3 separate regions of the Homo sapiens genome follow, and all the other regions are linked to region 1. The links come from fine-mapping of genetic effects on plasma protein levels. A gene starts in region 1. Each other region holds a variant in brackets. All regions are shown on one strand. Distances are from middle to middle. Region 1 holds the start of HPCAL1 (hippocalcin like 1). Region 2 overlaps HPCAL1 (hippocalcin like 1). Region 3 holds the start of LOC124907732 (a long non-coding RNA gene).

What was found. PIP is the posterior inclusion probability: the model's chance that the variant is causal. Protein levels are from antibody-based Olink assays in UK Biobank. Linkage for the fine-mapping came from a reference panel and not from the study's own genotypes, which makes the PIPs less certain.
Region 2: its variant is fine-mapped to the plasma level of the HPCAL1 protein (UK Biobank, PIP 0.93).
Region 3: its variant is fine-mapped to the plasma level of the HPCAL1 protein (UK Biobank, PIP above 0.99).

The regions. Positions count from the first base shown.
Region 1 is chr2:10,297,771-10,307,863 of GRCh38, forward strand. It overlaps HPCAL1 (hippocalcin like 1), which reads left to right and starts at 5,134. Exons shown (of 5, transcript NM_002149.4): 1 at 5,134-5,407. LOC101929691 (a long non-coding RNA gene) reads right to left here and starts at 4,947. Exons shown (of 4, transcript XR_922791.3): 1 at 3,808-4,947; 2 at 3,072-3,243. RefSeq lists a cis regulatory region at 42-654, enhancers at 153-447, 5,709-5,768 and silencers at 4,669-5,448, 5,333-5,530, 5,849-6,028.
Region 2 is chr2:10,395,651-10,405,743 of GRCh38, forward strand. It overlaps HPCAL1 (hippocalcin like 1), which reads left to right. Exons shown (of 5, transcript NM_002149.4): 2 at 1,185-1,270. Among named protein-coding and RNA genes, the nearest start is that of SNORA80B, 46 kb to the right of the region's middle. The variant T/TAC (reference allele first, on the strand shown) is at 5,122.
Region 3 is chr2:10,429,436-10,439,528 of GRCh38, forward strand. LOC124907732 (a long non-coding RNA gene) reads right to left here and starts at 3,378. Exons shown (of 2, transcript XR_007086214.1): 1 at 3,263-3,378; 2 at 2,151-2,422. RefSeq lists enhancers at 3,184-4,149, 4,150-5,114, 5,759-5,808 and a silencer at 3,430-3,489. The variant T/C (reference allele first, on the strand shown) is at 5,635.

The DNA of each region.
Region 1 (10,093 bases):
GGCCTTTCCTTGGTGCATGGAGAGGGAGAAAGATTTTTCTCTCTTCCTTTCTAAGACCACCAATCCTATGACTTACAACTCCTTTAACGTTAAGTACCTCCTAAAAGTCCTATCTCCAAATACAATTACATTAGAGGTTAGGGCTTCAACAAAGGAATTGGGGTGGTGGTGGTCCACAGCAGGGGAGGGGATATTTTAGTTTATCTTGAGCTTGCAAGGATGAAGGGGAAAGAGCGGGGGTGGGGGGGTGGCATCGGAACCTGCCTCTGAGTCACACTTCCTGGATGAGCCATGGGCCACAGCATCTGTATCAGGAGTGGTTACAAAACAGCGTGCCTCAGGGATAAACAAGCTGACCTAATGATCCAATTTTCCCAGCTCTGGTCCATCTACAGATTTGAGGCAGGATCCAGTGATTCTGCTGGCTGACTGGTCATGGTAAATTTCCAACTCTCCCCTTTCCAGGCACGGCTTTGGTTTCCTGCTGCAGCTGCTGCTGGGGAGTTATCAGGGCATTTCCTCCGCCTGTGAGCTCCTGGGGTCAGGGGAAGGTTGGGTGGCCAGAGATGCTGCCTCTACCCTAAGTCAGCGTCACCCATGCTATTCCCAGCAGCTGCATTTCTCCACTCTGTAATTACAAATGAAACTGGGGAATAGAATCAAAAGAGTACCTAGAAACAAGCTAGCCTCTACTTCCTCAAACATTCTGGGGCAGGAGTTTGTGCGCTGGAACAATGTTATTTGCAAGATTCTCCCTGGTGGATATACACTCAAGTATTAAAGTGCTACAAGGAATTAAAAAAAGAATAGTATTTCTTCCAGAGCCTGTGTGGGCCCAGCACAATGACACTGAATCTGGCTGTTAAACCTGGCTGTTGCTGATTCTAATATGTGGCCTTGGACATTTCATTTTTCCAAGTATAGCTTTCCTCATCTGTAAAATATGGAAACAATCTTTAGAATGTCGGAGATAGTGTATGTAAAGGTACTTCAGAAACAATAAAGTCCAAATCCCAATGACATTTTTTGCAGAAATAGAAAAACCCATCCTAAAATTCATATGGAATCTCAAGGGGCCCTGAACAGCCAAAACAATCTTGAAAAAGAACAAGGCTGGAGGACTCACACTTCCTGATTTCAAAACTTACCACAAAGCTACAGTAATCAAAACAGTGTGGCACTGGAATAAAGCTTGACATATAGATCAATAGAATAGAATAGAGAGCCCAGAAACAAACCCTTGAATATATGGTCAAATGATTTTTGGCAAGGGTGCCATGATCACTTAATGGCAAAAGGACAGCTTTTTCAACAAATGGTGCTGGGAAAACTGGATATCTACATGCAAAAGAATGAAGCTGGACCCTTACCTAACACCATATACAAAAATTAACTCAAAATAGATCAAAGACCTAAAAGTAACCTAAAACTATAGAATTTTTAGAAGAAAACTTGGAGCAAAATCTCCACAATGTTGGATTTGGCAGTGATTTCTTGGATATGACATTAAAGACACAGACAACACAGAAAAATAGACAAATTGGATTTCATAAAAATTTGGTGCATCAAAAAGCAAAATCGGGCTGGTGCGGTGTCTCACGCCTGTAATCCCAGCACTTTGGGAGGCTGCGGTGGGAAGATCACTTGAGGTCAGGAGTTGGAGGCCAGCCTGGCCAACATGGTGAAACCCCGTCTCTACTAAAAATACAAAAATTAGCCAGACCTGGTGGCGCACGCCTGTAGTTCCACCTACTCGGGAGGCTGAGGCAGGAGAATGGCGTGAACCCACGAGGCAGAGCTTGCAGTGAGCCGAGATCACACCACTGCACTCCAGCCTGGGTGACAGAGCAAGACTCCGTCTCAAAAACAACAACAACAACAACAACAACAACAACAACAACAACAACAACAAAGTGCTGGCGGTGAGGATGTGAAGAAATTGGAACCCTGTGCACTGTTTGGCAGAATGTAGAATGGTACACTGTGGAAAGTATTATTATGATGCTTCTTCAAAAAATTAAAAATAGAATGACCACATAATCCAGCAATTCCACTTCTGGGTATATACCCAAAACAACTGAAAATAAGATCTTGAAAAGATATTTGTGCACCCATGTTCGTCGCAGCATTATTCATAATTGCTAAAATGTGGATGCAACCCAATGATTTCTTGACAAACGAGTGGGTAAACACAATGTGGTATACACACACATGGAAATATTACTCAGCCTTAAAAAGGAAGGAAATTTGGACATACACTACATCATAGATGAATCTTGAGGACATTATGCTAAGTGAAATAATCCAGTTGCAAAAAGGAAATACTGTATGATTCCACTTATGTAAGGTATTAGAGAGGTAGTCATTATTTAATGGGTATAGAGTTTCAGTTTTACAAGATGAAAAGAGTTCTGGAGATGGATGGTGGTGCTGGTTGCACATCATTAATGTATTTAATACCACTGAGCTGTTCACTTTAAAAGGATTAAGATGATAAATTTTATGTTATGTGTATATTATAATAAAAGTTAGAAAAAAATTGTCATAAAACTAAGTCAGATATTAAGAACAATCAGAATTACTTCTGTCTTGTTTACAGTCATCATATGAAAAACAAATTGTTTATCTAGCATGACACCTGTTATGGGTTGAATTGTTTCCCTCAAAAGATGCTGAACTTCTAACCCTTGGTACCTGTGAATGTGACCTTATTTGGAAATTGGGTCTGCACAGATGATCAAGTTAAGATGAGGTCATTAGGGTGTGCCCTAATCCAATAATGACTGTGTCCTTATGAAAAGGGAAAAGAGACAGGTATATAGAGAAGATGTGAATTCACAGGGAGCGCACATGGCCATCCATAAGCCAAGGAATGCATGAGGTTACCAGAAGCTAAGAGACAGACATGAAACAAACTGCCCCCCACATCTCTCCAAAGGGGCCAGCCCTGCCAACACTTTGATCTTGGACTTCCAGCCTCCAGAGCTACAAAACAACACATTTCTGTTGTTTAAGTTGCCCAGTTGGAGGTGCTTGTTACATTAGCCCCAGGAAATTATACAACATCTTACCTGAATTTGCTTTCTTCTTTGCTCTAGTTAAATTCAAAACTACATATTGAATAACGACGGTGTGCTCTCTCTCCATGAAGCTTCGGGGTGGGTAGACAGTCCTCCTCTTGAAGGAACAGGAGGGACGCAAGGGAAGGGACCAACTTGTATCTCATCTGAGAGAGATACACTCCTGGAATAAGAGGTCTGCGGTTAAGTGTGTTTCTCTAGAAGTTCAGAAACAGAGGAAGCATCTGCGGGCTAAGCTGCTGAGGGCTAGGTGAGAGCTAACTGACCTAAGTTTTGAAGGATGGATGGGTGACAGGTTGGAGGGGGAAGATGGAAAAGTCACATGGGAGAGGAACAGCATGGGCCAAGTGTGGAGGAACCAGTGAGTGGGCTGGGTTTCAGAAACAGGCCTTGGTCTGCTTTTGAGCCCTCCCTGAACTTTTCCACCCCAACCCCACCTCCTGCCTGTGTCTGCCATGCACCTCCCTTCCTGTGAGTCTGTGGACAGACTTTGCCCCTTTGCCCTGTGTGTGCTTGGGAGAAATCTGCTCAGTTTCTGTGGCAGGGATGTTTCTACGTGTTCATCAAACCGGCTTTGTTTACTTCCGAAACACTCATGAAGACCACAGCTGCCAGAGCCCCTTGCATCCTGGTGGGACTGTGCGACTACTTCTGGCCCATGGATGTGGGTGGAAGTGACGTGTGCTTCCCCAGGCCTGGCTCCTGGACCCCACCGACGGCTTCTCACCTGTAACCCCACCAGCCTTCTACCTGGATACTTCACGGGGAGCTAGAGTGGCCTTGGCTAAGAAGGAGGCATGGCACCCGCGGGTACCGGGCCGCCTTCATCAGTCGGTGCACTCTGGTCCACCGCCCACATGCCTTCATGTAATCTTCACTGTAGGGCCCACAGGGAGGGGAACTTCCTCGAGGTCTAGCTTTGCCTTTCCGCCTTCAGAGCCAAGTAAGAATGAGGGGTCTGGGCTCGGCCCACCTTCCCTGCAAGGCCCTGTGCCCGCTCCCCTCAAAGCTGGTCTTGCATGTTGCTCTGGCGGCCTCTGTAGCAGGAGTTCACTCTGTTTTCCGTGGAGGAGGAGTGGAAGGAGGGATTCAAGCTCTCCCCTAGAGACGCTAGAAAGACAGTTTTGTCTCAGCCTCATACGATCGCCCAGCTCCACATTTCTGGCTGTTTCTGTGGTTACCTTTCTTCGGGGATGTTTGGGGCGGGAGGTGGGTGTGTGTGTATATTTGCTCTTCTGAAGCCGTTTTTCCGGAGCTCCTGGTGGGGGTGGGGGTGCTCTGTCCCTGGTTCCTCTCGAGGCAGGTGCAGGGGATGGAGGATGCCCCCCTCCCCGAGAGCCAGGAGGCGCCGACCCTGGGCAGGAGGTGCCAGACCGGCGCCTCTCCCGCGTGGAGCTCGAAGACCACAGATGCCTGGAAGGGAGGAGCACCTTCCGTGGTTAGGTGGGGAAACCGAGGCAGAGGCGGCCCAATGGACTCGCCTAAACGGCCTGGGGAGTCACTGCAGGTAACCAGAGCTGGAGCCAGGCTTCCCACTCCAGGCCCGGGGCTCTCCCCCGAACAGGCGTGGGAAGGGGTGCGAGCTGCACGCGGGGCTGGGGCTGGGGGTGCGGGGCTGGGGCAACTCGGCTCTTCCCCTTCCTAGGCCGCCCGGGCCACTTCCTGCGGCGTGGGGGCGGGGGGCGCGGGCGCAGGGCTGGCCCCTCCCGGGCGCCGCCTCTCGGCCTCTTCTATACCAGCAGGCCAGAGGCCAAGGGTTAGGGGAACAGAACCGGTGCCCGGCTCCGCCCCTGTCCCGAAAGCCACTGGGGGCTGGGACCCGGCAGGGCCAGGTTTGGGCCGCGAGGGCCGAGGAGCAGCGAGGTGCAGGGGCTGCGAGGGCCGAGCCGGGCGCTGAGGGTCCGGCAGGGGGCGTGGAGGGGGCGGGGCCCGGAGGGGGCGGGGCCGTAGGAAACTTGAGCGCCCGCCTCTGGCCGCGCGCCCCGCCCCGGCCCCCGCCTCCGGGTCCCGCCTCCAGGTCCCGCCTTCGCGTCCCTTCCTTCCCGGAGCTGGCAGGCGGGCCGCGGCGGCGGCGGGCAGCGGACGGGCGGACTGACGGGCGCCTCCACCTTGCTCCCTCCCTGGCTGCCGGCTTCCTTTTGTCTTTCTGGGCGGCGATGAGCGCAGGGCCGGCGCAGCAGCTGCGGGCGCACGGAGGCCCGCGCTGCTAGTCACTCCTCCCGGCCTCGGCGCGCTTGTCCCGGGCAGCGGCCCGGGCCCGCTGCAGCCGCCGCCGGCGCCGAACTTGGGCTCGGGAAGCCGGCGGACCGCGTCCTGCGCCGGAGCAGGTAGGGAAGGGGCGGGCTGCGGTCTGCTGGCTGCTGAAGTGTGCCCCGGGCGTGTGCACCCGGCGTGTGCACCGGCGAGCGCTGCGATCCGGCTCTTTGCGTGTGTGTTGTGCGCGCGTGTGTGTGTCCGGGAGTGCCCGCGTTTCTCTGCGCGGTGGAGTTGTGGGTGACTGCGGACGGTGGTGTGTCTTTCGAATGGCGTGTACTCGTGGGCATCCATGTGTGCCTTAGGTGTGCACATTTTGGACTGCGTTTGTGGAATTGTGTGTCGGGGCGCAGTTGCTGGTGGGGAGCGGTGCCTGGCGGGTGTCGTGTGTGAGCAGCTGTGCGCAGAGCGGGGTGGCGGGGTGGGTGTGGGTGGTCCAGCCCCACGCCCAGAGCCCCCTGTCCCTGCTGGTCGGCGCAGTGCGTAGCTTAGGAGCCTCGAGGACAGCTGGGACCCGACGGGCAAGGGCGGGCCTCGCGGGCAGGCTGGGCAGCCCTCAGGGAACAGGTCCGTGCGGCCCACGTGGGTCGCCTGTGAGCTTCTGCCAAGGGTGGGGGCCCACGCGGAGGCGATCCGCTCGTTCCTCCCAGGGCCATGGGGCGACGAGGAGAGCCCTGGCCTCCCCGCGACCCGCACTGCGACCTGGGCCAGACGCGCCACCTTCCCCGGTCGCGGTTTGCTTCTCTTTAAAATGAGGACAGCTCCTCCCTTGGGGGCTGTGGTGACAGGTGAAATGAGAACGCACTGAAGACAGCTCTTGGTCCAAAGCCCCGCACACAGTAGGTACTGTGTTAATTGGATTAGCGTCTCCTGTTTAAAATCCTTTTTTTTTCCCCTTTATCGTGGGTGGGGCCTTACATTTTCCCCGGGCGTGTTTTGTGCCTCTCCCTGGCCCTAACTTAACCGCGAAGCACTGAGATTCGAGAAAGTTTAGCTGCCAGCTGCGCTGCCTCCTGCAGCACCTCCCGGGCGGCGCCGCCTCCGCGAGTGCCCGAGAGCGCCGCGCTGGGCGCCGGCCCTGCCCCAGCCCCCAGGCTCCCGCGCAAGCGTGGGGGTCCCTCTCCTGGCCGGGAGGCAGCGACTGCGGAGTTGAGAACCCTTTGGTTCAACAAGTTCCTAGTCCGGGAGGATGCAGCTCAGCTCGTGGAGTCCGAGAGTCACGGCGTAAAATTGGCGCTTCCCGCACATGCAGATCTCGGGCTCCCGGGGTGTCCCGGCCGCCAAAGGCCACCCCTTTCCTCCTGGCTGACCCCAATTCCACCAGAGGAGGATGTTTGCCAGGGACGCCGAGTCCAGCTGCTGGCCTCGGCATTAGACAACCCCCAGCCCCAGCCCCTGCCATCCCTGCTCCCTTGCAGCCAGCCTCATGCCGGGGGTGCCACATGGGACACCTCCTCCTAGTCCCACACCTTAATTTAAAACATTTACTTTTGAAACCTACTAGTCGTAAAATTGAACCGCAGTGAACGAGCACCCAGCTCTTACCACGACTCACTCTCTGGAGAGTTCTGGCGCCTCGGCGCTGGCTCGGACGCAGCAAGGCCAGCTCTAGGGGTCGGGTGGCTCTCGGCCAGAGCGAAGGATATTCTTTCCCTTCATCGCCTTGGTGTCTTTCTCTGGGGGAAAAAAATCGCCTTTAACCAAGGGAGCCAAGATCTCACCAGTGCAGGAGGCTCTCAAAATGGAGCGCCGGCATGGGGTTGGGCTGCGGAGGGGACAGCATGGGCGGCCTTTTGGTATGGATGCGCTTCCCAACTGTCAGGGGCTACGTGATGGTGTTCCCAGAGAGGCGGGCTGCTTTGCGGGCTTTTAGGAGCCAGGGATAGAAACCTGGTCCGGTTCCTTTGGTTTCCCTCGGCCGAGACTGAAGCCCTGCAATCCTAGCCATGGCAGGCCAGGGGGATGCGATGAACTCATTTTCTCATTTTTCATCCTGACTTAGTGACAGGGGCACACTTAGAATGCACCCTGTTTTCTGTTTCATCAAATGATTTTATGTCCTACAAGAAAAAAGGGCTTTTGGTGTGAATCCTACTCTTTCCTCATAATCAGGTTCCATAATAATATTAAAAAAAAAATCAGTCTGGCTTTCTCAGCTCAGAAGACAGACCCAAACCCAGGTTTGTGTTTTGTTTTGTTTTTGTTTTTTTCTAGTTAAAGCCAGCCCTTTGTCTCAAGCAAGCCAGTGTTTTGGCCTTAGATCTATTTCTGTTTCACTTTTGAAAGTGCCTGTAATTACTGAGCTCTTGAGGTTTTATTGGATAATGTGGCAAAGGGAAGGCCCGGGGGCCCTGCCTCTCCCTTGCGGTGGGATGTGGTGCCACGGTGGCACATTCTAGCCTTGCCTGCTCCCTCTGCGTCCCACTTTCATGCTGTTTTTAAGGTGGAACAGAAATGTCAATGTGTGATAACAATTTGGGAGACTTTGTCTTTGGAATCCAATAAATGGAAGGTCCTTTGATCTGTGGAGAAACCAGAACAAGTCAAAACCCCAGAAGAACAGAGATTTGCCCAAACTCCAGCCAATGACCCATTTATTTCCAACAAGCCCTCCTAGAGATAGATTCTAAGTGAAATACAAGAACGTGGACACACTCCGTCCCCTTTCTGGCCACAGGGCTGTGCAGAATTAGAAGTGCAGTCTATGGAAGGACAAGGACTGGACTTCGCTTGGTGCAAACGCCCCAGCCAGGCGCCCCATACTCACCTAGCACCATTTCACCCTGGAGCTGTTTCCTCCTGTTGAAGCGCTGGTGCTCACACCCCCTACCTTCAGGGCTCTGCAAGCACAGTTCCAAGGTCTGCAGCGCGGGTACAGTGCATGCCCTGCTGAGTGTGCGTCAGAGCAGTTGTCTCCCTGTGACACTTATTCTAAGACCCTTTTTGCTACTCATAAGTGGTAGAGTACCACACTCACTCATGAACCAGTGATAATCCAGGGTACTAACGGGGGCCCCGGAGTTTATTTGGCACCGAAGATTAAGCTACTTGGCAGCTGAATTTTTATCTAGATTGGGGTTAGGTTTGTATTAAAATTTTGCATTCCAGCAAGCCCTAAACCGTGCTTGTTCATTGTGGGATAATGCGTTCAACTGATGAGTTGCCAGGCCAGGATTGATGGGGGATTATGTGTATTCTGCTAGTTTGTCAGCACCTGATGTCACTGTGCTGGGGGGTGGGGGAGGCATGTTTGGAGTTAGGATGAGCAGACACTTGTAGATTTTAATCACACTCTACTTTGGGGCTCCCTGCTCTCCTATGGTAGCAGGGGGTTTCTGTGTCGTTCTTATGTCCTCATGTAAAGCTGCACATCTGTGAATGTCAGGTAGCTCTTGTGCTTTTCCCCTTAGATTGAGTTTCTAATCTGGGAATGACAGAGGGTGGCTGTATATGGAGACAGCAGCATGGGCTTAGGGGCTCTTTTGGTGCCAGTTACCCTACGGAAAAAAGGTTTCTTCAAATCACTTTCTACAAAGACTAAAAAATGGTTGGAATCTAGTGGTGCAGATTGTAATATGACTTCAGGTAATCAATACGGTTTGACAGGTGGAACATTTCTTAGATGCTGATGAGCAGGGCGCAAGTCTCAAGATTTTTAAATCATCTGAAAAGCACAGTAAATCCTTTAAAGAGCCCTACCTTGGCCATGTTGTTTCAAGTAAAATTGAATTTCAGAGGCAAAGCTTCACATCGGAGGCATGACGAACTAAAGAAATCCTTCCCAGAGACCTCCACTCTCTTCCTGTTGCCACCCTCCTCTGCCAGCAGCAGGGCAGGAAAGATGACTTCTTGGGGCTGTGTGCCTTTACCTTAAGAAGCAAGTGCACCCTGAATGCTTCTAATCCCGCAGCTGGGTTGTCTGGGTATTTGGATCTTTTTGGTGCTTGAGGTACTACCCAAGTTGGCAGGAAGCCAGGAGCCTGGGGGTGGAGGTGTCTTAGCCCCACCTGTGGCATGAGACAAGAGGTCTTCTCCAGCAAGGGATGGGTCTCTGACCCTTGGCTAAGAAAACTCAGGATTGTTAAATACGTACTGCATGGATAAGGTTGCTGTGACCCTGAAAAAAGGAAGAAGGCTTTTGGGTGGTGCGTGGTTCTCCTCTTGGAAGTCTTCCCAGATTTCGCCTCAGTACTCTCTTGCCCTAGCTTAAATCTTTCCTTGCTCTGTGTCCCCTTAGGCAAGTGAGGTCTCCTCTCAGGTAGGCATGATATTAAGTGCATGTCTAGAGGACAGTTCCTTCTACCTGCCCAGGTGCACTGGCTGAACTCACCTATGCCCACATCTGTGCATTGGCAGGTGATATAGATATACACCTGAGCTGTCCCCCTGAGCTGCAGACCTAACACTAGGTGTGGGCTCCGAGCTGTTCCACATCAAAACAGAGCCGAGGACACATCTCCCTCACTGAAGCTGTGTCTCCTACCTATTATGGTCAACACGTCTCATCTACTCATTTGTTAAAGCTAGAAATCTCTGGAGAGTTTTGGAGCTCTTTCTCTGTCTTCACTTGAAATCTCTGGAGAGTTTTGGAGCTCTTTGTCTGTCTTCACTTTGCCATCTAATTGGGTCAGCCCTCTCTGAGGGCTCACACCCACTCTTCCGGCACAGCGGAGCCTTATCTGCCCTTGGCCCAGAGAATGCTTCCAGTTCCTTCACTCCAGCCACACCGGCAGCACTTCCCAGTTTAAAACGCAGATTTC
Region 2 (10,093 bases), 98 kb after region 1:
AAAGTAATTAGGGAGTGTGCGGTAGATGCGGAAGAGAAACGGGCCGTCAGGTGAAGTGACTGTCAGGATTCCATCCTGGCTCGGCCCCTTGGAAGACACATGATCTTGCAGGTAATTAGCTCCTGTAAGCCTCCATTTTTCCCCGTCTGTCAAATGGGGATGATGATTGTGCCTGCCTCCCAGGGCTGCTGTGTGGATTACGTTGGATAATGAGTACAAATGCATAGACAGCCTTTAGCAAGGAGCCTGGTTGTATAGAGCTGTCGGCCTCAACACTGTTAATACACATATGTACCAGAGGCTGCAGGTTCACGGAGGAGGAGTCACCAATCCATGCCCGGGGAGCAGGCAGAGAAGAGGGAGGCGGGCCCGTCCCGAGTTCACGCCACGTGAAAGGTGCTTGGAACGCTTGTGCCAGAGCTGGCAGTGAGGGTTGAGGGTGGGAGTGGCCGAGCACCTAGACACCCGCAATGCAAATTTTCCTTCTCAGTCTCTGGATGGTTTTCTGAGCTGAGCTGCGGGCTGAATGTCAGGTGATGCGTCCTGACCTCTTCCTGAGCACCTAGTGTGTGCCCTGTGCTGGGCCCAGGAGGCATGCTGGGGGCAATGTGGGCCTCAAGGAGGAGGTCGGGTGATGAGGGGCCAACCCAGGTATGCCAGTCAAGAAACCGTGGAGGCTGGAGAGACCCTGAAGGGAGCAGGGCACAGTCGTGGGTGGCAGGCCTGGGTGTGCCTGATTCCACTGAACCCTCGTAACAGCCCTGGGTGCAGAGTGTAGAGTGCTGGGTGAGGACGGAGGCTGTGCGTCTGTGATGGCCCCAGGTGACAATGCTGTTGGGATTTGAACCTGAGTTTGTGGACCACAGAGGTCCCGGCCACACTTAGTTTCCATGCCAGTTTTGTAGTAACCAGCAACCTCACTCGAAGGGTGGCCAGCATCTTACCTTGGGGCTTCTATCAACGTTGTCCTGGGCTTCTCGCCTGCTGGGGTGCAGCGGCCTTGGGCATGTGCCCCTGTCCATGGTGGCTGGCCGGAGGCCGGGAGCCAGGGCTTTCTGTATGTAGCATGGCACTTGCAAAAACTGTGATCCCCCAGCAGGCACCACAGAAGCAACCAGAGGGAGGGGCATGGGCTCCGGGCCGGGTCGTCACAGCCTGCGTGACCTGTCGCTCTTCTCTTCCAGGGGCATGGTCTAGTGGCCCAGTCAGGACGCGGAAACACTCCCTGGAGGTTCTGACCCACTCCCTCTCAGCCTCCGCCTGGTCTCTGGTAAGTCACTCCCAGAGGCCGACTGGCTCAGGGTGGGTGAGGACTGAGGATGGAAGTGGGTGGCTCCTGCTGTGCCGTGGGGTCCTGCCCATGTGTGGGGACTGGACCCAGCTCAGCAGAAAGAGCAGGGAAGACTGGGCGTGGGGGGCAGCCCAGCTAGCACCCCTAGACAGGTCAGGAAACTGCGGCTCGGAAATGCAGAGAAACAGCCCCCCAGGCCCCACAGCCATCTCAGCTCTCGCCCTAAGCTGGCCAGGTCTTTCTGGGTAAATCGCGTGACCTTCGGTGCTTCTGTTTGGCGATTTGTCAGGGGAATGAGGGGCCCAGAACTTTGAGAAGGACGTGTGGGTGAGGGCAAGGAGGGCACTGTCTTAGTGTCCGGGTTTCTTTGTCTTCTATCCCCTGCAGCCCCTGTACCTGGAAGCTTCCTTCTCCCAGGCTCCTGTGCATGGTCAGGGCCACTCAGCCCTCTGGACCCCCACCCACGCCAGATAAGCTGTCTGCGCTGGGAGCTGGGCATGTGGCTCTCCCCTCAGAGCAGTTACCGTAGGCTGCCGGGCCCAGGGTCTGTCTGAATCCGCCACCCTGCAGCCCCCCAGGCCCCTGCCTGCTCTGGGTGCGAGGAAGGCTTGAGGGAGGGCAAAGTGCTTACAGCTTGAATGCACCACCCTGGCCTGGCCACTGGTCGCCTCTCCCCCAGTGTTAGCCTGGCTTAGGGGCTTTTTCCATCCGGAATCCTTCCTGGCCCTGCCTGAGCTAACTCCGTGAGCTCGGGAGGGCTCCTCATGACCCTGGTCATCCTGCCAGCTCCCGAGACAGGAAGGCCTGGCCATGTCCCGGGGCTGCCCTCGGGTCTGGAGAGCCTGCCAGCCATGCTGTGGGGCTGCCCTTCCAGCGTTGAGGGTTTGGTTTTGTTTGTAAGCAAGGAACCAGGTATGCGATGCTGGAGAGTGTGTAATTCTGGCTGTGCCTCTTCACAGCCCCTTCCAATCTCGTGCATATTAAGGTTGATAAAAACACCCTCTTCAGGGTCAATGCGAGATCAGACCTGGAGTGAAGTGTCCCTGTGGTATCTGGACCAGCAGGACCTGGCTGCCCCACAGCTCCTCCTCTCTCTCCCTCCTCCCTCTCATGGTCTCATGACTATTATGGTGACTCTTGTCACTCACCACCCTGCCCCACCTGCTCCTGCATACTGTGAGCATCAGTTGGGGCCATGGATGTAGCAAGGGTCAGCTGTCATAGGCTCCCGGGGGGACACCTGGGGGAGGGACATTTGGGGACAGAGCCCCATCTGGCCATGCCCAGCCCCTGAGAGCCCTCATCACCGACTTGCATCTGGTGAGTTTGGCAGGGTCCTGTATAAGGATTAAAGTCCTCCAAGTCCTCATACAAAGTCGCTTTCCAAAAGTCTGGAATTTTCTTGGCCCTAGACACGGGAGATGCTCTTTATAATTTTCATCTTCCCACTCAGAAGGAACCACCTTTGAATACTCAGCCAGGCTAAAATTTGGACCCAAAACCTGTTAAAGCATCACTGTCTTAATTTCAGTGTTCATGATGGGGTTCTGGGCTGTGTGAGGGGTGGAGGGCAGATACCAGTGGCAGGTTTCATCTGTGGCCCTGGTAGATGTGAGTCCCGCAGCCGGTCAGCCCAGGGCCCAGGGCAGACCCCGGGCGTGGCTGCTTTCCCGCTGGGCACCAACGCACGCACGTGGTGTTTCCAGGGCAAAGTGAGCTCCCCACCCTCTGCCCGTCCCCTGCCCCGCCCTTAGATCTGCATCCCGTGGGTGGGGTGGGTTTTCCTGCCTTCCTCTTCCTGAGGGAGGCGATTTCTCCTTCCGCTTTCTCCTTGCCACAGTAGCTGCTGGGTTGGGAGGAGACATCCAGGCTGGGGCCTCAGCCTCAGGGTGCCAGTTAGCGTGTGGTTAGCTGAGAAAAAAGTATTTTTCTCAGCAGAAAATAGACACAACTGCATGTGAAGGGGCCACTTCCACTCCTTCATTCTCCATCCACCAGCCTTACTGGAGCTAGAGAGTGGGGGAACATCTGGGTCCGTGTTACCTGGATGTCACCTGCATACAAATGTCCTGGCCCGAGGCCACTGTCAGCACGGGTGCACAGGGGAGGCGCCTGGCCCGGCAGGTCGTGCTGAGGCTGATACCCGTGTCAAGAAGCTGGAGCAGGCGAAGAGATCAGAAGAGGGTAGAGGAGGTGGTCCGAGGTGTCCATTCCCATCCCCAGACCCCTGGGGCATTTCAGTGCACGCACAGCAAATAATATCACTGCACCACCACCACCACCACCACCACCACCACCATCACCACCACCACCACCACCATCACCACCACCACCACCATCACCACCACCACCACCATCACCACCACCACCACCACCACCACCATCACCACCACCACCACCACCACCACCATCACCACCACTACCATCATCACCACCACCACCACCACCACCACCATCACCACCACCACCACCACCACCACCATCACCACCACCACCACCATCACCATCACCACCACCACCACCATCACCATCATCACCACCATCACCGCCACCATCACCATCACCACCACCGCCGCCACCACCGCCACTGCCACCGCCACCATCACCGCCACCACTACCGCCACCGCCACCACCACCGCCACCGCCACCGCCACCACCACCACCACGAGTTGAGGGACTCTGGGATCAGAAGGCACTTTCCAGCACATTCACACCATTGGCCGTGGATGTTGTGGGTCAGGTGATGGGCACTGGAAGGGCCTTCCGCTTCTCTCTGCCCCTGGCCCTTGGTCATGTACAGCAGGCCGCTCCCCGGGCAGTGGAGAAGCAGCACCTGCATACTAAGGCTCGAGTCCCAGCCTCCCCTACCAGCCTCCCTCTCCACGTCCCCAGACACTCATGCGTTCCTTCCCTTGAGGTGGGTTCATGGAGCACGTACCCTGTGTCAGACAAGCTTCCAGGCTCTGGGCTTCTGATGGAGAACAGACCAGAGTAAACCTGGCCCCAAGGACCTTGAGCTCCACTCAAGGGGAGACAGACAGTGAACTCAACAAAACAGAAATGAGAGAAAGGATCAAGCTGGAAAGGGGATAAAGAATGAGTGTCGGTTTTGGATAGAGTGCTTGGGGAAGGCCTTCCTGAGATGAGACCTGACCAAAGGCCTGCAGGAGGTCAGGGACGGGCGTGCTTCTAGCTAAGGAGCAGCTGGTGCAAAGGGCCTGTGGCAGACGTGCACCCGTGGCAAGGAGGGGGCGAGCAGGCGGCTCAGCCAGGTCGGAGTGGGTCACACCTGAGGGGCAGGACGCTGGCAACCCCGACCGCTGAGGAAGACAGGTGCGAGCAGCATCTCGGCACAGCCAGACCCCCACCATACGGCAGCCCTCTGTGTCCCTTAAATAAGGATGCCTCCTCCCAGGCTTAAGAGATCATTGTTGCTCATAGTGATTTGTGTAGCCAACAATTCTTCTGGAAGAAGTTAGATGAACAGGGCCATGGAGATTTGGGGCCGGAAGAGCAGGACCCCAGGCTTGCCTCCCCTCTAGTGCTGGCCAGGCCGTGGATCCCAGGCGGGCATCTCAGAGAGCCATCTGAGCGGCCTTTCTGGAAGTGCCCTCCTAGGCAGACGCTGGTCATGAGGCAGGGCAGCGGGGAAGGGACAATCCTCCTGTGTTGTACATTGAGGGTTATATTTAGGGTGACTTGGGATGACTTGGCAGTATCACTTCCTGTGGTCGTCCCCTCCAGCCCTCAGCCACGGAGGGCAGATCCTGTCTGACAAGCATTGTGGGCAGACACGTGCCTGCACACACGTACACACCCACATGCACACA[T/TAC]ACACACACGCACACACATACACACATTGTGGGCAGGCACAACTTGGCATTCTCATCTGCCCTGGAATTGGTGGAGGGCTGGGGACATTGTCCTGGCCCTTCTGCAGGACCGCCAGGTGCCTGGCGGGGGAATCCTAGCCGTCAGCATCTCCGGAGCATCTGCTCCATGTCGGGCTCTGTGTGAAGGGCTGCATCCAGATCCCACATGAGCAAGACCGGCCTAGCCTCCCCATCTGGTTGGGAGATGCCAGGCAGAGGTGGAAGGAAGGGCGGCTGACCTGCCCCTTAGTCTGCTCAGCCACACAGGCAGCCACAGCCGAGGCTGCACAAGGACACTCCCCTGACCTTGCTGCCTGCTGGCCCCGGGTCTCCAGGCCAGGTCCGAGCCAGCCAGGCTCCTCCCCACCCATGTCACCGGCCTCTCTAGGTGGAGTCCACAGTGATCTTTGCTCCCCTTCCCCAGGCATCCAGCACCACACCAGGCACAGGGCCTGGTATTTCTGGGACAGCCCAGATTACACGTTTTCTCTCAGTTACCCCCTAGAATATTCTTGGACTTCTCAGACCCCATGTGCAAATTTTTAGCTTAGAAGTAATCACTGGGATCATAGACGATGTTTAGCAAATATCTGTTCTTTTGGGTGTTCCTAGGCCCCCAGAGGGTCTCCGGGAAACTGGCTCTTTTGCTGAGGCTAGAGACTATCTGGGCTAGAATGTGTCTGATGGGGCTCTCGGAGGGTGCACAGACAGTGCCGCGGTGGCCGAAGATCCACTATTCCAAGGCCGGATCTGCAGAGGATTTGGAAGTTGTCTGTAAGGAGCGCCTAGATCACCCGGACCTTCTCTCTCCCTCCTTGACTTCCTTCCTGCCTCTCGTCAAACAATTACTGTGTGCTTCCTGTGTTCTAGGCGCTGTGCTAATAATTGGTTATGGGATTATTCCTAGCCACACCCTGGGTAAATGGAACCCAGCTCTCTGTCCTTGGGAAAAGGGTCAGGAGAGAACTGGGGCCCAGCTGGGAAGCTGGAGGCTTGAGGCTGCTGGTCCATGTTGGAATGCTGTCTCCCTCTGCCATCCAGCACCCAAGCCCGGCGCCAGGCTCAGAGCAGGAACTGAAGCTTTTGCTGTTGTTGTTGTTTTTGTTTTTTGAGACAGTCTCGCTGTGTCTCCCAGGCTGGAGTGCAGTGGTGTGATCTCAGCTCACTGCAAGCTCCGCCTCCTGGGTTCAAGCGATTCTCTGCCTCAGCCTCCTGAGTAGCTGGGATTACAGGCGCGCACCACCACGCCCGGCTAATTTTTGTATTTTGAGTAGAGACGGGGTTTCACCATCTTGGCCAGGCTGGTCTTGAACTCCTGACCTCAGGTAATCTGCCCGCCTCGGCCTCCCAAAGTGCTGGGATTGCAGGCATGAGTCACCGCACCCGGCCAGGAACTGAACCTTGGTAGGAGAAGGAAAGAAGGAGTTCCTGTCTTGCTTTCCCGACCAGACTGGAAGCGCTCTGAGGGCGTTTTACACTTCGGTGTCTTCCCAGCACTTAGCATTGTGGCCTGCATGTAAGGGGTGTTCCGTGACTGCGTGTTGATTACACTTTGTGTGTATGGGTGGGTGCGTTGCCACAACTCTCCCTGCAGAATCTGTGGCCTCTGGTGCTGTGATTTAAAGACTAAAGATGGCAAAGAGTGGCTTTTATGAGCTGCCCCACTCCTGATTATAAACACACTCTCTATGAGTCAGAGGCCTGGGTGATCATGGATAAGTCACTTGCCAACAGTTAACTCCAGACTGTAGCTGCTGGGGCCACCGAGGGCGGCTGGAACATCACCATTCTGTGCCTAGCGTTTCAGCCGGGCTGAGGCCATTTTATTAATAATGATTTATTGTTTTTATTGCTTCCCAGAGATATTAAACATGAATCAAATAATGCATGTGATGATTCACTGGAGGTTCCCTTCCAAATTTAAAAAAGAATTAAAGAAAAAGTTTTTGACGGGTGTGCTGGTGTGGACACCAGGCAGGCACCTGAGAGCCCTCCCACCTTGAGCTCAGCCGTGGGCAGCACAGCACAGGGTGGACCTTGCCCTGCAGACAGAGCCATGCAGCCTGCGCAAAACCCCAGGGAGGACGCGCGTCTCACAAACACCTCTTCAGTCTAACATTTACAATGGTATTTCTTACAAATGGTTTCCACCCGAGATATATTACAATGTGGCCAAACCCCATTCATTTGGGACACATAAATTCAAAATTTGGAAATAGTTCCTTTGGGGCTCATGAACTGATCAAGTTTAGTCATTTCTCAAGCAGGGACCTGGCAGAAATGTTGCTTTTTACCATCTACTAAGACAAGAGCTAGGCAGCTGGTTCTGCTGAACAAGGTCCCGGGGAGAGGGACACCAGTCCTGGCTCAGTGAGCAGCTCCTCAGGTGCTTTGGAAGCCTCCTCTGGGGATAGACTCAAAGAAGTTTTCTATTTATTTATTTATTTTTCTTTATTTTTAAATGTTTTTCTCAAGGATGTTTTTTAGAGCTAGCTCATACCTCAGGGGCCACACTGTCCAAACACATATTGGACCCTGATGAGGAAAGTGAGAGCCGTCAGGGTGTGTGACATAGCCACTGTCACCCAGGCCTCCAGCTCCATTCTGCAGTTGAAAATGATGCCCTCATAACAAAGAGTTCTTTTGTGTGTGTGTGTGTGTGTGTGTGTGTGTGTGTGTGTGTGTGTGTGTGTGACGGAGTCTTGCTCTGTCACCCAGGCTGGAGTGCAGTAGTGTGATCTTGTCTCGCTGCAACCTCCGCCTCCCAGGTTCAAATGAGTCTCCTGCCTCAGCCTCCTGAGTAGCTGGATTACAGGTGCCTGCCATCATGCCTGGCTAATTTTTGTATTTTTAGTAGTGATGGGGTTTTACCATGTTGGCCAGGCTGGTCTTGAACTCCTGACTTCAGGTGATCCGCCCACCTCACCCTCCCAAAGTGCTGGGATTACAGGTGTGAGCCACCGAGTCCGGCCAACAAAGAGTTCTTATCCGTTCATTACAAACGCCCACTCTTTCCAGTCCTTACCTGATCAAGAATTCAGAGGCAATTTTTCAGGTATTTTTTTGACTCGGACTTTACAAATTTGAACTACCATTCAAGTAATTGGTCTGAATTCCTAAGTTTCGATGGTATTTTTCTCTTCCTTCTTCTGGCTGCCTCTCCTCCCCATACCCTGCATTTGTTAATGTACCCATTTGTTCCATATTCTGTTTGTTCTTTATTGCTCTATACACTGCTCCATAATGTTCTCTATCATTTGTCCATTCATTACCCATGAAGGTACATGCAGAGGTCACCAGCCCAGAGGTTTGTAGCAGGGACAAGTTACTTGCTGGTGGTGGTCTCCCCAAAAGTTTGGGCCTGCGAGTCATTGACACCTACACACTTTGAAAACACCCCAGGATGAAGTCTGGGACTGGAAGGAGCTCCCACCTTAGCCAGACTCTGGCCTCCTCCCCAGCTGTGTCCCCGCCAGCCCTTCTCCAGCCATGCCCTTTTGCCTCCCAGCACACTGAGGATTCCTCCTGGAATGCCCCTCACCCCGTCTTTGCTGGGTGAGTGTTTCCCCAGCCCCGCTGAGCTCAGGTATCAGCCCCAGCGCTCTGGGTAAGTCTGGGACCATCTCCTACATTGTCTGCAAAATCCTGCAGAAAGCCTGGCCTGTGCTGGTCAGCAGGATGCTGCGTTTCCTTTTAAACAGACCCAAAGCAGTCAGCAGCCACAGACTCCCCAGAGACGGAGATGAGAGGAGGGACCTCATGCCCTGAGGCAGCCCCAGCCTCACTCCCATGCCCTGCAGGCGCTGAGCAGCCCCCAGATCCCGGGCTCCTTTGCTGCCCCAGGGTCGGGCAGTTCTTGCATCTTGGACCGAGTGGGCTCTGCCCTGCTGTGGCATGACTGGGCTTCTTCTGTCCTTTTTCTTTATTTTCTCTTTGAAGAACAGGAGTTGGAATTTCACTCACCCTGCCCCAGCTGGATGTGTCTAGGCCACCGTGGTCCCAGGCTCTCTGCCCAGCTGGGCCTCAGGACCAGGTTTTAATGCCGCTGCTTGGGTGTGCCGAGCGAGAAGGGCTCGCCAGGCAGTGCAGAGATTCCACCGAGCCCAGGCCGCAGCCCCCACCTCCCGCCGGGCTGTGCTCAGTGTCAGGAATCGGCTCCCAAGATGGCCGCCTTTCTTGTAAAGCTGTGCCAATACCCCAGGCATCTGACTGGTGCTTTCCAGCTGGCACTCCTTTTACAGATTCCATTTCCCTTTATCCTCACAACTGCTCAGTAGAACCTGCAGGCAGGGACCCTTATTCCCATTTTACAGTCAAGGAAAATAAGGCCCAGAGAAGTTGAGACAGCCAGGACCATATGGCTGGAGACGGGGCAGGCTGGGCAGAGCCCCCAGCAGGGCCCCTGGGTCTGCGGGCTGCTCCCAGCAGCACCCCTCATATACACACCCTCATCCTGACTGCAGGCCCCTGAAGCTGGCATTCTGGTTCAATTTTACAGAGGAGCAAACAGGCTGGGTCTGGAGCGTTGACACTGGCAACTCTAGCCCAGCCTTGCCTGACTCCAGGGCATGGCTCCAAGACCCTGGAAGAGCTGCCTGTCCCTCCATGGCCCCTCCAGGGCGTGCTGGGTGCTGGCAGGGCAGGCTGAGGCACTCGACAGCAGAGTTGGCCCCGTAGTCTCAGTTTTGCTCCCGCTAGGGTGAAACACGGTTCCCTGGGGAAGGGCTGTTGCTCACCTCTTGGCCTGGAACATCAGGGTGGAATTTGCAGACGGAATTCTGCCATCTGACGCGTAGATCTTCCCCCCAGGCATGGGTCAGTGCTTGAGTCATTCTGCAGCTGGCACAAAGAGCCAGGAAGAATGCGCTCCAAGATGCCTGGGAGCTGGCATGCCAAATCACCAGGCGTCATCAGCACAGCCAAGCCAGGGTGG
Region 3 (10,093 bases), 130 kb after region 1:
GTCGGTGGGTAGATGGATGGATGGGAGTATGGGTGGATGGGTGGGTGGGTGGATGGGTCCCTAGGTGGATCGGTTGATGGATGAATGGGTGGCTGGATGGATGGATGGATGGGTGGATGGATGGTTGGGTGGGTGGGTGGATGGATGGATGGGTGGATGGGTGGGTGAATGGTTGGGTGGGTGGGTGGATGCATGCATGGGTGGGTGGGTGGGTGGGTGGATGGATGGATGGATGGATGGGTGAATGGTTGGGTGGGTGGGTAGATGCATGGATGGGTTGGTGGGTGGGTGGCTGGATGGATGGGTGGATGGGTGGGCAGGTGGGTGGATGTATGTATGTATGGATGGGTGGGTGATTGGTTGGATGGGAGGGTGGATGCATGGATGGGTGGGCGGGTGGGTGGATGGATGGATGGATGGATGGATGGATGGATGGATGAATGGGTAGGCGAATGGATGGTTAGATAGATGTATTTATCATAAGGAATTGGCTTATACGTGATTATGGAGGCTGAGAGGTCCCAAGGAGACAAGCAGCCCTGTCCCCTGTAGACAGAGGTCAGCAAGCTGGGGACCCAGGAGAGCTAATGGTGTAGTTCCAGTCTGAATCTTAAGGGAGGAGGAGGCCAATGTCCCAGCTCAAGACTGTGAGGCAAAGAACAAATTCTCAGGCTTTTGTCCTATTCAGGCCTTCAGCTGAGTGGATGAGGACCCCCACATTGGGGAGGGGGATCTGCTTTACCCCACCTGGTTCCCCCATTGGTCACCAGTTCCAATGTCAAATTCATCCAAAAGCACCCTCACAGGCACACCCAAAATAATCGGTTTGCCCAAATGTCTGGGTACCCCCTGGCCCAGTCATGTTGACACATAAAATTAACCATTATAACCACCTCTGCTCAGATATGGAGGAGGTAGATATGGGGATCCTAGTGGACCCTGCCCTACAAGGAGCTCACAGAAGCCAGTATGATTTGTCCAGGAGTCCAGTGCTCTCTGGGAAGGCAGGGAATTGAACCCCAAAGATGGTGTCCCTGTGCCAAGAAGCCCAGCCTATCAGAGGAGGAAAGAACCCAGAAGTGAACCCAAAACTGTCGTCCATGCCACCCACCCAGCAGGAGGCCTCCTCAGTCTCTTCCTTTGTCCGGGATCAGGATCTTTCAGGGCGGGTTGTTAGAAAGTGTCTCGGCTGGGTGCGGTGGCTCACGCCTGTAATCACAGCACTTTGGGAGGCCAAAGCGGGTGGATCATGAGGTCAGGAAATCGAGACCATTCTGGCTAACACGGTGAAACCCCGTCTCTACTAAAAATATAAAAAATTAGCCGGGCATGGTGGTGGGCGCCTGTAGTCCCAGCTACTCAGGAGGCTGAGGCAGGAGAATGGCGTAAACCCAGAAGTCGGAGGTTGCAGTGAGCCGAGACGGTGCCACTGCACTGTAGCCTGGGTGACAGAGACTCTGTCTCAAAAAAAAAAAAAAAAAGAAAGAAAGTGTCTCCACCTGTCCTTCCCTGGTAATTTGCAGTACTGGCCCTGGGCCTGCTTCCTCTTCCTCCAACCACCTCCTTCTGCAAGCTTCTCTCTTGTCCTGCCTTCTCCTTGCCCCAGGGGATCCCAGACCCTTTGCCATCCTGCACGGGCACTCCAAGTTGTTAAAGTTCCTTGGGAGTTGCATACAAGTGTCCCTTATCCTATAGACAGATAGAAGATCTAATCATGTACCTGCATAAGCAAGGCTTATGTGGGTGGACTCAACAGAAACTCTGGAAAATGGCTCCGGTGGCTCCATGGTCCCATCCACCAGCTGTCCTGACACTCACTGCATGGTGTCCCATGCTCACTGAGTAAATACAGGGTAATGGGAACAACTCCTGAGACAGGAAAATGTTTAGACTCGAAGGAAGGAAGCCCTGGAGTGTGGAGGGAAGGGTGGCAGTATGAGGTGTTAGTCCCAAGACAGTTCATCTAGTCAGGCCACGATGAACCCCTAGTAGGGCAAGACTGTCACCTCCCTTACTCTGAACCTTAGGCCTTAATTAATACAGCCCCAGGCATTTTCTGCTTGGGTAGACTGGCCTCCCGCGTGGGAACCAGCATTGAGCTAGCAAAACATTAGCTCCCATTTATCAAGGGTTTCCACGTACAGACACTGTTTAAAACTTTAAACGTCTAATTTAACCCTCCCATCAACCCTGCAATGTGGTATCACTACCACATTATACAGATTGATAATGCTGGTTTAAGAGAAGTTAAGTAACTAGCCTGAAATCCTTAGCAAGAGGTGGCAGAATCAGGAATTGAAAGAAGGATCAGCTCCCAAGTCCGAGGTGCGTCTTCTCCCGATTCCAGAAAGGTCTTCCAGTAGCTGGGCTGGAGCCGGGTCCATGTTTCCTTGCCAGCGGCCTCCTTCAGGGCCCCTGGTGTCTAGAGAAATGAAGGAGTTTCTCCCTGGGTCCCTGAACAAGACTTAAACGCACTGTATTTGTGGCACCCAGGCCTGACTCCCTCCCCACCCCGTGCCAGGTCACGCCCTAGTGGAGAAGGGGGCGCGCCTCCCCACCACTGCCTGAGGGGCGCCCTCCTGAGCGCCCGTTTCTCAGGGCGGGGCACTGGACTCCGAATGGAACCCTCCCCTCCTTGCCGGGCTTAGGCAGGTACGTCATTAGATCTTCTATCTGCCTCTTGAGATCAGGGGTGCGCATGAGCAGGGACCCAAAACGGGGGTCCAGTTAGGATCACAGCCCCCCAAGAGGAGACAGAACCCACAGGACCTTCAGGCTTCTGAGAGGGACCTCGTGGGCCCCGGAAAAGGTATTTAGAAAAACAGGAGTTCGGCCTTGGGTTCATCCGTGGCGTGGCCTTCCCCCAGCCGCCTTGCCCTGGGCTGGGCGCCGTTGGGAATCAAACCCACACGCCTGGGGAGCTGCCAGCCAGCGGGAGCCTCGGCCGTCGGGGAACAGACTCCGGCTTGGGGCAGCCTGGCAGCCCTGAAAGGAACAAGAAGAAAATGGAGCTGTGGGGCAGGGGCGGGGCTCGGCTCGAGAGGCAAGTGGTCCCGCGCTAGTCCCACCTGTCACCAGCCACCCAGTCCTGCCGCTCTGACCCCGCCACTGCGGCGCAGGGGCCTGGTGCCCGCTGGTCCTGGGCTCCGGCTCCGGGTCGGCAGCGATGTATCCCGGCCCAGAGTGGGGCGGGGTAGGGCAGGGCCAAGGTCAGTTTCCTTTAAGCTGGGCACGCCCTCTCCTTGGCTTGGGGCTCCCTTACTGTGGCCTGGGAAGAGGTCTCAGAGGAGAAGGGGTGATGCTGGAGACACGGTGGCGAAGGAGCACTGCGGCCTGGGCCCCGGGGGGCAGCTGTTTATCCAGCAAACACCTCCCCAGGGCCAGCGCGGGGCATGGCACAGCAGGGCACTGCCGGGGCGCAGGAGCTGCGGGGGCGGGTACAGCCTGCCTGGGGCAGGAGGCTGGGGAGGGTGGGAGGGAGCTCGGGAGGAGGGGTGACTGAGGCCAGCGGGGGCGGGCGGGGCGGCAGCCCCTGGAGGGCCCCTGGAAGGCCTCAGCTCCTCCGGCTCTTCCCAGCGGGCTGTGTGACTGTACCATGGGGCCCCGACCTGAAGGGGCCACCTGCCTCCTGCAGTTCACGGGAAGGCAGACCCTGGCCCGCCCTGGAGCCACCTGCCCACGGCCTCTTCCAGCTGCAGCCAGGCCCTCCGGGCTCGAGCGGGCTCATCCACTAGGTGTGTGTGTGTGCGTCTGTGTGTTGTCTTGGGTGTGTGTGTGGCTGGGGCATGTGGTCTTAGTGTGTGCTGTGGATGTGTGTGGTGTGTTTGGGTGTGTGGGAATGGTGTGGGGATGGTGTGACTTTGTGTGTGATGTCGAGGTGTGTGGTGTGTTTGCATGTGTGGTGGTGTGTGGGCATGGTGTGACCGTGTGTGCGATGTGTATGTGTGTGGTATGTTTGCGTGTGTGGTGGTGTGTGGGGCATGGTGTGACTTTGTGTGATGTGGATGTGTGTGGTGTATTTGCGTGTGTAGTGGTGTGTGAGGGATGGTGTGACTGTGTGTGTGCTGTGGATGTGTGTGGTATGTTTGCGTGTGTGGTGGTGTGTGGGGCATGGTGTAACTATGTGTACATGTGTGTGTTGTGGATGCATGTGTGTCTGTGTGTGTCATGGTGTGTGGGGCATGGTGTAACTGTGTATGCTGTGGATGTGTGTGGTGGTGTGTGCTGTGTGTGAGTGGCATTGCGTGTGCTGTGAATGTGTGTGGTGGTGTGTACTGTACTGTGTGTGTGTGTGTGTGTGTGTGTGTGGCATTGCGTGTGCTGTGGTGGACCCGAGTCCACAGGTGGGTGGCTTCTGGAGTGCCACATGAGGCTGTTGAGTGGCAGCCCTGACAGCTCATTCCAGGAGGGCCAGGTGGGGTGCCTGTCTCCGTGGCCTGAGAGGCTGGGCCTGGGCTCTGGGCACCCTGCTCCCCTTCCTGGCCCACCTGGGCCCACAGTGGCCTCCCTCCACACTGAGCTTCCCTGCACCAGGCCTGTCCTAGGCCTCCATGTCCCCTCCTCCAGAGGTCGCCTTCGGTGACCTCATCAAATTACTCTGGTCGTCTCCACCCTGAAGCCCTGCGAGGCTGCTCAGGAATGAGTGGGGATGAATGAATGAAGGGAGGGTCAGCAGGTGGCTCTGCTCTGTCTTCACGCAGCTGGAACCGCATGAGCTTATGCCCTGGACACACACTGAGACCCAGGCCAAGTCCCAGCTCCACCTCGAATGAGCCGCCTGGCACTGGACAAGCGCTGTGTCTTCATCTGTAAACCATGTGGTCAGGGAACCAGGGGCAGAGGGAGGGGCTGCAGGGCCTTGAGGGGAATGGCAAGGGTCCTCAGGGGCAGGACCTGACCTCCAGGTTCCTGGGGACCTCCGAAGGTGGGGGCCCCAGGGTTAGGGTCAGGCACCCTGGCAGGGATGGCAGAGCATGGGAGCCATGTGTGCGGGTGTCTTGTGGGGTGTGTGTGAGGCTGGGGCATGTGGTCTTAGTGTGCGCTGTGGATGTGTGTGGTGTGTTTGCATGTGTGGTAGTGTGTGGGGGATGGGGAGGGCGGCACAGGCAGCCTCAGGTGGGCTCTGCCTCTGGCTCAGGGACAGGTGCCAGGCACCAGCCCCACAGGAGGGGTGGCGGGGGGAGATCTGCCCTCCGCCCACTCAGCCTATCATGGGGGGTGGTCAGGGGAGGCCGGGTGGGGTCACCAGTCGCTGGTGGGCACAGGGGAGGATTGGGAACACCTCAGAGGGGATTGGGGCCACTTCGGGGACGGGCAGGGGGACAGGCAGGACCAAGGCTGCAGGGCCCCACCAGCTGTACACAGGGCTGGTTCTACAACATGGGGCAGGGGTGCAGGGGCTGGGCTGGGGGCTTCACCTGGGGGGCCTCAGGAAGTGTTTTGGGGGTCAGGGGAGTGGTCTGGTCGGGGACTGGGCTGCCTGGTGCCCCTTCCTCAAAGCCCCCGGGACCCTGGAGTGGCTGAGTCGGGAGCTCTGGATCGAGGCCACGCTCCAGTCTCACAGCCCTGTGGCTGTCAAGGGCCCCCTGCGATAGTGGAGCTATCAGTGTTTGCCCAGTGGTCGAGTGATTTGAC[T/C]GCCTTTTCCTGGCCCCGACCGCGCTGCCACCGCGGGGTGCTGCTGCCCCCTGGTGTCCATAGCTAGGAGGGCCATCCAGGGCTTGGGTGTGCGGGTTCCAGCTGGGCCTGCTTTCGAGAAAAGCTTTCTGTCCTGGGCGGCATTTGATGACAGAGGAGGATGCTGAGGCCCAGAGGAGCCCCTGACTTGTGGTGGGCCAAACGGCACACAAAAGCTGAGGCCAGGCTCCCGGTACCCAGGACCAGAGGCCTTATTGCCAGATAGGAATGCCAGATACAATACAGGGCACCCAGTTACACTTGAATTTCAGATCAACGAGAAGCAATTTTGCAGCTGACATATGTCCCGTGCAGTATCTTATCTTTGTGCTAAGTCTGGCAACCCTCCTTGAGAAGCCAGGGAGTGGGGCCTGCACAGCCCTGGGGCGGGTGAGAAGCTGGAAGGGCCAGGCCTTCTGACAGGCACCCCCAGGGCCAGGTGCATGACCCTCCTGGCGGAACCACCCAGGCCCAGACTGACCCTCGCCCAGCAGGGCACCAGGTCTCCTCCCCTGCGGAGCCACCCCCGAGCTGGCCCAGCCTGGAGACCCCCGCTCCCCAGCTCACAAGCTCACGGGCCTGAGCTCCACAAGTCACCTGACTGAGCTCCACCTAGGTAACCCCTGGCCAGTGGCAGAGCACGCCTGGTCACAGCCCTCTCCAGCCTGGAGTCAGTGCTGCATGTGGATAAAATTCTCCGAACTCCCAACAGCAGCAAGAATTCCGGAGGCGCTTCCACTCTGTGCCCTGCATTCGGGCCTTCACCAATCCTCCCTTGTAGCTGCCCTGCCGTGGGTGGGGGGCACCAGCTCAACCCCCACTCAGAAGGAGGCGGCCGTGGGGACCCCTGTGCCTAGTGAGGCATAGGGCCTGGGTCTGGCTAGTGCCTAGTGAGGTGTGGGGCCTGGGTCCAGCTTCGTCTGTCCAGCTCCAGCCGAAGCTGAAGCCACAGCAGGAATGCAGGGCCAGGTGCCACCGTCTGTGGTATTCCGGAGCCATGGGTGCTCGGGGCTGCCTCTGCCACCCTGGCAGGGAATAGGATTGGCAGAGAGCAGGGGCCGGGAACACGTTGCCCTTGGTGAGAGAAGGATGCCGCATTCTAGTCATGGTCATTGTTCAGCAAGAGCCCAGGAGCAGAAGCTGGCTGGCGAGGCAGGGCCCTGAGGACACCCAGGCCCTCCTTCTAACTTACAGACTCGCCTTGGACGAGTCACTTGGCCTCTCTGGGCTTCATCCCATCTGTAAAAAACAAGAACTGGGAGAACTCTGCAAAGCCTTTGCTTCACATGACGTCCTACCTTGAAACCCGATGGGTGAGATTGGGTGAGGCGGAGAAGGCAGAGCCCCCCACTTGCCCCCCTCACCCCCAGGCACTGAGGCTTCTCGGGAATCCCTGGTGGGGACAGAGCCCGATTTGAAATGGGTCGACTCTTGCCTTCAGGGGCAGTTTTCCAGCCGGGCCCAGAGATGGTGCAAAGCAAACCCCCAGATCCAGCATGGGGGAGGGCCCATGTCAAAGAGGGTACAGGGTGACAGCCAGAAAACCCCCTAAGCGGAAGGGGCTAGCCAGCCACTTCGAGTCACTTAGGAAAATCTAGTAAGGAGGGAACCTGCGAAGAGATGTGTGGTCCCAGTAGCAGAGGTCACTGCTGGGGTGTGACGAGCACATGACTTCACAAGACAAGCCGAGTGAGGCCCGGGAAGGGGCAGGCCCTACCCACGAGAAAGTGCAAAGTGGGCATCAGCCAGGGCTCAAGAGGGCCGCAGGGGGCACACGTGGCTTGCTCTGCCCACCGGCTTCTGGCCTGCCCTTGGTTGCTGCAGGCTATCTGTGAGGGGCAGTGCCTGGCCCTGACACTGTCGGGGAGGGAGGGGTTGACCACCTGCTGATGTGCCAGGAATGTTCCCATCTTTGGCTTCTGATGGGTCTGCTGCCTTCGTCGGCCTCATGAGCTGGGTTGGCATGAGCCAGCCCTCCTGGACCCTGCAAAGGTGAGGACCAGGTCGTGAGCAACTCTACCATGTCCCCCTGAGCCAGTCCACTGCCCAAGCCACCCTCCAGCTGCTTAACAGCATGTTCCCAGGGTAGGGAAACACCGAATGAATGCTGGGGTCCTCTGACCTGGCTTGAATGCTGCCTCACTATCTGCGTGACTTGAGTTCATCTCTGAGTTTATGTCTTCACGCGGGAAACCTATTTTACAATCCTCGTAAAGTCAGTAATACATTCCAATATCAAAAGCGCAGTGTGGAGCCAGTCCCCACTCTCGGCCCAGGCCTCTGGTTCTTCTGCCTAGAGGCAACCTCTGTTACCCGTTTCTTACAAGCTCTTCCAGAAATATGCCATGCATATGCAAGTATGTATGTACACACACAGTTTGTTGGGGTTTGATTTTGCTTTTTACACACACAGTAGCATACTACACGTGCCCCTTGCTTTGCTATCCTCACTGAATCTAGCTTGGAGCTTGTTCCTTATCAGTACTGATGAATCTGCTTCATTCCTTAACCACTGTATATCCCGTTCCATTGACAATTTCATCAGTACCTGCTTGTGTACAAGAGATTGTTTACAAATGATGCCACAATGAATAATTTTAGAAGAGTATCATCAGAGAAATTCTTAGAACTGCTGGGTCAAAGATAATGTGGATTATTGATATTATCAAGTTCCCTCCAAAGAGACTGTTGCTCTAATTTACTTTTCCGCCCAGTGCTTGAGCACACCTGCTCACCCCGCGAGCTGGGGAACTCTTGTCTTTGCCAATCTGATAGGTGAGAAATAGATTCTCATAGTTTTACTGTGTGTTTCCTTTGGTTGACAAATGTCTTCATGTTCAAAAAGTTTACTGTTGGCTGGGCGTGGTGGCTCATGCTTATAATCCCTGCACTTTGGGAGGCAGAGACGGGTGGATCACTTGAGACCAGGAGTTCAAGGCCAGCCTGGCCAACATGGTGAAACCGTCTCTACTACAAATACAAAAATTAGCCCGGTGTGGTGGCATGCACCTGTAGTCCTAGCTACTCAGGGGGCTGAGGCAGAAGAATCGTTTGAACCCGGGAGACAGAGGTTACAGTGAGCTGAGATGGTGCCACTGCATTCCAGCCTGGGTGAGAGTGAGACTCTGCCTACCAAAAAAAAAAAAACTTTACTGTGAGCCAAGTTTATGCCTTGCCCACTTTCTATTGCATAGTTACTTTATTGATTTGTTGTTTTTAATATGAAGAAAATTAGTCCTTTTCACGGGCATTGTAGCCGTTGGTCCCTTGCCTTTTGACTTTGTTTCCAGTAGGTTTATGGTCTAATCTGTTATATTTAAAACTTTCATCTATCTGGAATGTATTTTGGAGCAGGAGTTGGGGATACTTTTATGTCTTCCAGATGGTTCTCCAGTTGCTCCAACACTACTCCATCCCCAGAGTCTGGGGAAAGTGGTCAGGGGGCAATAATGAGTATTTTTAAGAAGCACCCTAAGTGATTCTAATGCACTCTGGCTGCCTTTACCTTTGCCCAATAGTTCAATTCCCCTGAATCCCCTCTCCCGGGGGCCAGCACGCCAGGAAGAAATTCACAAGTGGTCTTGGTGGAGCTGTATTCACTTCAAGTCACGAGTCTAGAAATGCCCAGTATCTGTGCACGACCAGACAGCACCATCTTTAAAAATGACGTGGAGATACCCAAATGCAAAGCAGGACTTAAGCCTCCTGGAGGACGGTGCCTGGTGTCGACACAGCCCCGGCTACCGTCTGGCTGTCCTCGTTCTCTGGTCTCTCCTGCCAAATTCGCCTGCCTGCTCCCATGTACAAGGGCCAAGGAAGATCACTTGATCAAGCCTGGCCACATCATTTCACAGACCCAAGTCTGGCTTTGTTGGGGCCTGTAAGTGGCTACGCCAAGCTGTGGTCAGAAGCGAGGTTTCAGGGGCCACTCACGTGTAGCACGGGATTACCTGCGGCTGTTTCTGTCCCCACTGGCACTACTGACCGTTGTTGGATTACATTTTCCCTAACTGGCTGAAAGAGCATTGTTTCCAAAGCCTTAGTTGATTTTGAGTGGAATACCCCCCTTTTCAGTCCAAGCTCACCACTGCCACTAAGCGATCTCGGGAATTTCTTCCTTTTTAAGATGGAAGACCTAATTTACCAAGATTCTAGGCTTGGTGTCTAGCTCAAATTTCTTGGCACACAGTACATACTCAGTGCCAACTCTCTTAACATAGTGGGTCCCGGATCCCAGGGAACTGCCCTTGTTGGGGAGCTCAGAGTTACCCAAACACACCAGCATCCTACTTCTCAGGCTCCCGGAAGGTAGGGCTGTGGACTACAGCACTCCTTCCCGCCCTCCCCCTCCAGTCAGAACCAACCTCTGGCTCCTGAAAAAATCTTTCATGTTTTGGCAACCCTGGCCCAGGGAGACCAG